2 linked regions of the Homo sapiens genome follow. The protein of the gene in region 2 purifies or fractionates together with the protein of the main gene of each other region. This does not show direct contact. Each region holds a gene or a part of one and is shown on either strand. Other genes may lie near its edges.

Evidence for each region.
Region 1: the proteins of SGSM1 (region 2) and PIP4P2 purify together in Homo sapiens (affinity purification with mass spectrometry; one large-scale study listed by BioGRID and IntAct). This does not show direct contact.

What each region holds. Positions count from the first base shown.
Region 1 is NC_000008.11:91,020,136-91,023,959, forward strand, and holds part of PIP4P2 (type 2 phosphatidylinositol 4,5-bisphosphate 4-phosphatase), read right to left. Parts: intron 1,270-3,824; coding exon 1,121-1,269; intron 129-1,120; coding exon 22-128; intron 1-21. UniProt on the Homo sapiens protein: Catalyzes the hydrolysis of phosphatidylinositol-4,5-bisphosphate (PtdIns-4,5-P2) to phosphatidylinositol-4-phosphate (PtdIns-4-P).
Region 2 is NC_000022.11:24,892,983-24,896,806, reverse strand, and holds part of SGSM1 (small G protein signaling modulator 1), read right to left. Parts: intron 3,377-3,824; coding exon 3,194-3,376; intron 1,585-3,193; coding exon 1,516-1,584; intron 1-1,515. UniProt on the Homo sapiens protein: Interacts with numerous Rab family members, functioning as Rab effector for some, and as GTPase activator for others. Promotes GTP hydrolysis by RAB34 and RAB36.

The sequences.
Region 1 (3,824 bases), on a different chromosome or scaffold from region 2:
GAATTAATCTTTATCTCTTACCAGTTGGGTCTTGGGCATCCTATTCGCCGAGATGTGTCCTTACAAATGAGAAGACAATTACAAGGGCATCTAACATATTTCTTGCCTGTTGGGGGGTTTTTGATTGGCTGGATAAGGGAAGAAAATGCAAACACAGCAATTAACCAAAGTACAGATTGTCAAAGTTTGTTTGTGTTTAAAAAGGAAAGGATTCCATTAAAACTAATGAAATATATTGCTTTTGTAACTTAAGGTTTTATTTTATGATTTTTCTATAAAACATATGAAGTCAAGTATTCATGTTTTGTGGTCCTTCAAGACACAATAATCACTGGCTGACTTTTTTTAGTCTTTTCTAAAGAGAAAAAAATAAAACATCAAAGATAAAATTAATATTTAATTGCAGATTTTGAGAGATCAAAATGTAATATATAAAGCCTAACTATGAAAGAAATATATTTCATCTAAACCAGTGTATGCTTTACCAGTTTATTACTTGAAGCTATAAAAATACTGCTGAAAATTTAGTTGCTCCCCAAAGCTCAATTTTTAAAAAAGGAAAGGTGTTATTCAATATTTTAAACATTCCTAAATTACTATCAACTAAATTGAATAAAATGTCAAACTATTTGTAAACACTTTGGCACAGATGCTAATAATAAATGCATAATCACAAAAGCCCAGAAAAACAATAGTGACATCCTACAGACATAAAATAACTTCAAATAATTTTCCACATAAATAGGGCAAAGTTTACATCTGTAATGAAGTTTAGTACACAATATTTTCATTTTAATGAAAACAAGAATGAATGTAGTTGTGATGTGGATAGATATTGAAAGTATTTATACGTAACTGCCATGCTCAGTCTAGTTTTTGAAAGTAAAAAGCCAAAAGGCATTATATTTAAATTCACCATGAAATTCTCTTAATGGGGTTAGCTTTAAACACAGTGAGGTATCCTATGATGAAAGAGAGACAGAAGAAAAGACAGGAAAAAAGATTACCATATTTGTATCCAGCCCACATATACTTTTAAGTAACATTATTGAAGTACTTCCTTTAGGAATAAAATGTCAAATAACAATTTATATTTTTTCTAATGGAAATCTCCACTTACCGTAGCTTCATTGCAAACTGTGCACTTAACCACATGCTGGTGAAGCTTGCCATCCAAATTGATTAGTGATTGGCACACACGGCAGTTTATTACTGGAATACCACTGGCGTCTGGACTGGCAATGGCTGTATATGGAGGTGGGAGCTCCGCTGAAAAGATATTAGTCACTGAATCAGAGTCTTGGAGAAATTACTATGGCTGGTTTGAGTATAGAGGCAATATAAGTAAAGAAGAAACAATCAAGATTTTCCCACGTTCTTTTATTTATTTTTCAAAGCTAGCCAATTTATCTTACTTTTAGAGCACAAACATCCATGAGACTCTTATCAAGTAAAATAATTCTTAACTCTGATAAAATCTAAATCATGTTTGCCTAGGTCTATCCCAATAACCCAGTTTCCTTTTACTAATCTATACTCAAAATGTCACTCCATTCCTATTAGTAAATTCATACAGTCTCTAACAGGAGAGTGGTAATTTATGCCTACAATAAAAATTTTACACAAGTGATCTGATTCCCAGGAAATAAAAATGGTCGATGAAAGCAAAGTTTTAAAATTGCTTATCCATACATATAAATTATGTAGCTGTCATGCTCTGTCTTTATATTGGAACCAGTATAATGACTGCTGGCTATGACAAGAATAAAACAAGGTGTTGGAGGAAGTCAAGAAGAAACAAAAATGAACCTAAGAAAACTAAACTTCTCAGCATGGAACAAAAATGGGAACCATGCTAATTTCAGACACAAAACAAAAATAAAGTAAATATAACAATTTTTAGTCTCAAAATTTACCTACCATTAAAAATGTAAGAAATGCACCAAAGTGTTTATGAGTAAAAAAATGTAGTATGTGGGATTAAAAACTTCAAAAACCATAACAACAACCACCACAAAAAGAATGGGGAACCAGATGAAACAAGTAGCAAAATGTTGATAACTGATGAATATAATGACATGGAAGGTCATAGTTTCACACTACTTTTGTGTATGTTTGAAAATTCCCATAATACAAAGACACACACACAGTGTTTTTTTTGAGAGTCCTAAGGTTGACTCAGTGAGTGAGTGAAGGGTGGAGGCCCACTTTCAAAATCAAGTATCTACCAGAAGTGTATATTTGTTACAAAAGTCTGAGAAAAGGAATCCTGATATACTACTCTGGAATGGGATTTCTAAAGGAGACTGCCTAACCCCTTTCTGTAACTATCTCAACTACAGGAATAGAAGACTTTTCCAAGGTAAAGTTTTGTCTTGGGACATTTAGAAAGGGCCACACTCTAACATATGATTGAAGCACGAAAGAGAACTGGTATCTCAAGAGGCTTCTGTAACACTATAAAATATAATCACAATAGCTAAGCATAATAAGAGCTATTTTTGAAATAAAGGTTTTCTATCCACTGTATTAGGTCCTAAACTTTGTGATATTTTAAAAAGAATTAGAGCATAAAACATTTTGGTATGTTTAAAATACACATATTTCTACCTGATCCTTGGGTTATAATATAGGATTTTTTTCAGACTGCTAAGGATTAGCAACAAGTGGTATTCGTTCAAATGATTCATAAGACAAATTTCTGCAGCAGCCAAGGCTCTGAAAGAGGCCACTTTGAAATGACGATATGCTTATGTTTCTGGGAGGCTTATAACAGAACACTGCCAAACACTGAAATTCAAAAGAAGCTGTACATGTCTTAAATTATAAAAATAATTTTAAATCCATGAAAAGAATTTGAGCGTGATCCAGAGTGACCTGTAATGTATTAATCAAGAAGAAAAAAACATGTTAAAGAAACAATGAGTCAACAATATACTTAAGGTCTTGCAATTTGCAGATTACTTTGTCAGATCTCAATAAAGACATTATTCTTGGGGAAAGAATATGTACCTCACTAGAAATTCAAGACACACTGCCTGGTATATGATAATGAATATTATTTTAATAATTATTTGCAGTAGCATTATTAACAAAAGTTGCTTCCTCTCTGGCCTTTTCCTTGAGTTGTACAGTAACATTACATAGTTCTCTCGTAATCCCAGGTCTCTATCTTACACAGTATGATAGAAAGGAAACTTAAATGCAAGACAGTTTTATAAAGAAAACAAGGGCATTAGGGGGAGAGGAGGAAGTGACATATTGCTACACTACATAAAAGGACACCAACCCATACACTCCTCAGCTTTGCTCAAAGAAATCTCCTAAGAAAATTTCAGAGGGTGATCTTAACAATCATTAAAAGGGCATTAGAGCCAGTAAAACCCTGTGAATTTTTCTTCTAAGATTTGTACTATATAATTTTTAATCTGCCAAAAAAAAAACGCCTTCAATGACAGAAATATGCTCAAATCTACTCTTTTGGAGGCTTGGGAAGTGGAGGGACATGGACAGAACAAGCAGTGAAGATTATAAATCTAATATAAGAGAGACCATAAGCTCCACGAGGCCAGGGGCACATCTGGTTTGTCCACAGCTACTTCACCAGCGCTTGTCATAATGCCTGGTCTATGATGATGCTTACTAAATGTTTATTCAATGGTTGAATTAATTAATAAATCAGCGAGTCACTAAAATTTATTAGACATATCTATTTGTCTTGGAAAAATAACACCAAGTATTAGGTTGCTGCAAAAGTAACTGCGGTTTTTGCTACGACTTTCAAATAGCAAAAACCGCAATTACTTTTGCACCAACCTAATACA
Region 2 (3,824 bases):
CAGGGTTTCACCATGCTGGCCAGGCTGGTCTTGAACTGCTGATCTCAGGTCATTGACCTGCCTCGGCCTCCCAGAGTGCTGGGATTACAGGCATGAGCCACCGTGCCCAGCCTCATGTATACATAATTTTTCTCATTCAAAAAATTAGTTAACACACGGAAAAGGCAAAAAAAAAAAAACCAAAAAACAAAAAATAAAAAAACCCTATTACTTTTACACCCAGGTGGTTGACTATTATGAATCAATTTTTCAAGTTAGATATACATGAAATACTATGAAAAAAATCTCCAGAATACATTTTAGAGATTTTTTTGTGACTCTTTGTGTTCTTGGATCATATCAAGGGTACACAGTTAAAGATCATGTTCCAAAGTCACCTGAAATATTTCTTCCCTGTGTGGTTATGTCACCAACTTGATTTATGGTTAGTTTCATGTGTTTCTGTGTTTTCAAAAACTTCTTTTTGATTCAATTGATTTTAATTATGTAAAAAGTTTACCTAGCTTCAGAGTCAAAACCAGAGTTTTTTTTTTACTCCAAAATCAAAATTAGGAAGCAAGGCATATTCAAGGAAATGTAGCTTCTGTCTCTGCCCCCTCCTCTCTCGGTAATCATTCTGATTCGTTTCTGGTTGCTCCTCATACCATTCTCAAAAATGGAGGCAAATATATACAGATATTAATATTGCCTCTTCTTACACAAAAGGTGACAACACACTATGCATGTTTTTGCACTTGGCTTTGTGTGTGCGTGTGTGTGAGACAGGGTTTCACTCTGTCACCCAGGCTGGAGTGCAGTGGCGTGATCATGGCTCACTGCAGCCTCAACCTCCTGGGCCCTGGTGATTCTCCCACCTTAGCCTCCGGAGCAGCTGGGACTACAGGCACGCACCACCATGCCCAACTGATTTTTTTCGTATTTTTTGTAGAGACAGGGTTTTGCCATGTTGCCCAGACTGGGTTTAAGCTCCTGGGCTTAAGCTATCTGCCTACCTTGGCCTCCCAAAGTGCTGGGATTACAAGTGTGAACTACCATGCCCAGCCAGCTTTTTTCTTTAAAAACGGAGTGAGATTGAGTTATCTCTTTTCACCAATTGAAACGGAAAGTTGTTGAACAACATATATGATGGCATTTATGTACACATTTAAAAAACAACTACCAAACATTGCTATAGATTATATATTTCTGTGTATGTATATGCATACAGAAGGTTTTGAAAGGAACACAGCAAACTCATGATAGTGGTGTTATTTCAAGAGAGGGCAGGCAGAGATTAAGGACGATCAAAGCAGACTTTGACTTTCTCTACAATGTTTTAGTTTTTTGCAGGGGTGATAGATCCATATATTTCTTGCATTACTAAACAAAAAACAAAAAACAATGTTTAATGCTAATATAAAAAGCTAAAACAAATAAAGCAAAAAGTGACCTACAGATGACGGACACCCAACCCCCATGACCCCAGGCAGAAGGGAGAGGAGTGGGTGGGAGGGGGCGAGGCCTCCACAAGGTCACCTGTGTGCTGCTGCTGGAGTCGCTGTGCAGGCGGATGTTCTGGCGGCCCGAACTGCAGCTCTGGGAGGACTGAGAAAAGAAAGAGCAGGAGGGAGGGAGGGTGAGGCTGCACCCTGGCCCAGAGCAGGAAGGACTGCTGGGCTGGGAGCCAGAAAGTCTAGTTGCATCTCTATTCCTAACTTGCACAAGTCCTCTCTCAGAGCATCAGTTTCCTAGCTGTAAAATGAAAGGGGGGCACCACTCCCTGCTTCCTGGAGCCTCTTCAGAGACCGCTTTGACCTCTGGGTTCCCACCTCTCACCTCTGCAACTAGAGCACCCCACCTTTAACTGCTCTGTAATTGAGACTTCTGGCCAATATTTCAGTTCAACTCACAGAGTAACTGGTTCTATTAATGGCTCCACTTTTTTTTTTCCCATGATCCCTGTATACATGCTTCTGCCCTATAACCTCATAGTCCTTGCCTACTCTGACACTAGACTTGGCCATGTGGCTTGCTTTTGTCAATGGGATGTTAACAAACTTGACTCAGCAGAGGCTTAGAACACCCTTGTGCATTTCCGCTTTCTCTCTGTGGCATCTGCTTTCACCGTGAGAGCACGTCCAGGTTAACTTGCTGGGCAGTGAGCCACGTGGAGCACAGCTGAGTCACCCCAGGCAAATACGAGAGCCCAACCAAGATAAACAAATGTTTTAGTTGACCAGTTACGGACAGCTGGTGCCAGAATAAGCCTCGCCTAGCCCAGTTAAGAACAGAACTTGCCAGCTGACCCAGAGTTGTGAGCAAAAATAAACGCTGACTGTTGGAAGTCATTGATTTTTGGTGGTTGTTTGTTACACACTGTTATTGTGGCAATTGATGACTGATATCATCACTGCTGAAGAAAATTAACTTTTTTTTGAGAGGGAGTTTCGCTCGTTGCCCGTGCTGGAGTGCAGTGATGCAATCTCGGCTTGCTGCAACTTCCGCCTCCCGGGTTTAAGTGATTCTCCTGCCTCGGCCTCTCAAGTAGCTGGGATTACAGGCGCTCAGCTAATTTTTGTATTTTTAGCAGAGATGGGGTTTCACCATGTTGGCCAAGGCTGGTCTTGAACTCCTGACCTCAGGTGATCCACCCGCCTTGGCCTCCCAAAGTACTGGGATTACAGGCGTGAGCCACCACCCTCAGTCAAGGGTGGTGAGATCCTACTTTTTACTGAGATCCTACTTTGGGCTATTAAACTGGAAGTTCTGGGAGGACAGACCAGTCTGTCTGGGTCACTGGAACATTCCTGATATCCCAGGATATTCCTGATAGTACCTGCACATAGTAGATACTCAATAAGCATTTGTTGAATCAATGAAAGTCAGGCAGTGCGCCAGGCACTTTATATACATTGTCTTGTTTGGACTGTACACGAACCTCCTCTACACCTGATTATTCCCATTTTACAGATGCAGAAAACTGAGGCCCAGAAGAAAAGGTACTGGTAGGGAACCCCAGAACTACTAAATGGTGGGACTAGAGTTTGAATTCAGGTCTGATTCCAAAGTCACCGCACACTCTTAAAGAAAAAGCCAGGGGTGAGACTGTCACCAGGCCCCAGACACCCAGTCTTCACCACTCTTAGAACAGCCCAATGAAGCAGACCCTGACCTTCCCCAGCCCCCGCGCTCCCCGAGGCCAGCCGCCCATCACCTCATTGCTGATGGTTGAGTCCCTGTGCAACATCCGGTGCAGGTGGCTGTCCAAGCTGGCCCCGGATGAGCATTTGGCCAGGGCGGCCGCATGGGACTCCCGCTCCCTCTGCCGCACGATCGCCTCGCAGCCCAGCCACTCAGCCATGGTCTGTGCATAGCAGGCATGAATCTGCTCGTCCACCTGCCAGGGCAGATGCAATGTCACCCGAGGTGTCAACAAAGGGGCGCCTGGGGAGGGCCAGACCAACGTGGAAGAGAGTGGCTCTGATCCATCCAACATTCACGCAGTTAACATCCAGCAGATATTAACTGAGCACCTACTATGCTATGCCTAGCACTGGTTAGGCTCTGAAGACACAAAGGGAGCAAGGCTACTTCTTTCCTTATTTCCCTCCTTCCTTTATTCATTCATGCATACATATATAAATTTCAACTATTCATTGAGTCCTTACTATGTGCTAGATAGTACATAGGCCCTGGGGATACAAAAGTGAGAAGACTGTTTCTATTTTTCTTTCCCTCCCCCCCCTCCGCTTCCTTCCTTCCTTCCTTTCTTTCTTGACAGAGTATGGCTCTGTCACCAGGCTGGAGTGCTGTAGCACAATCTTGACTCACTGCAGCCTCCCGGG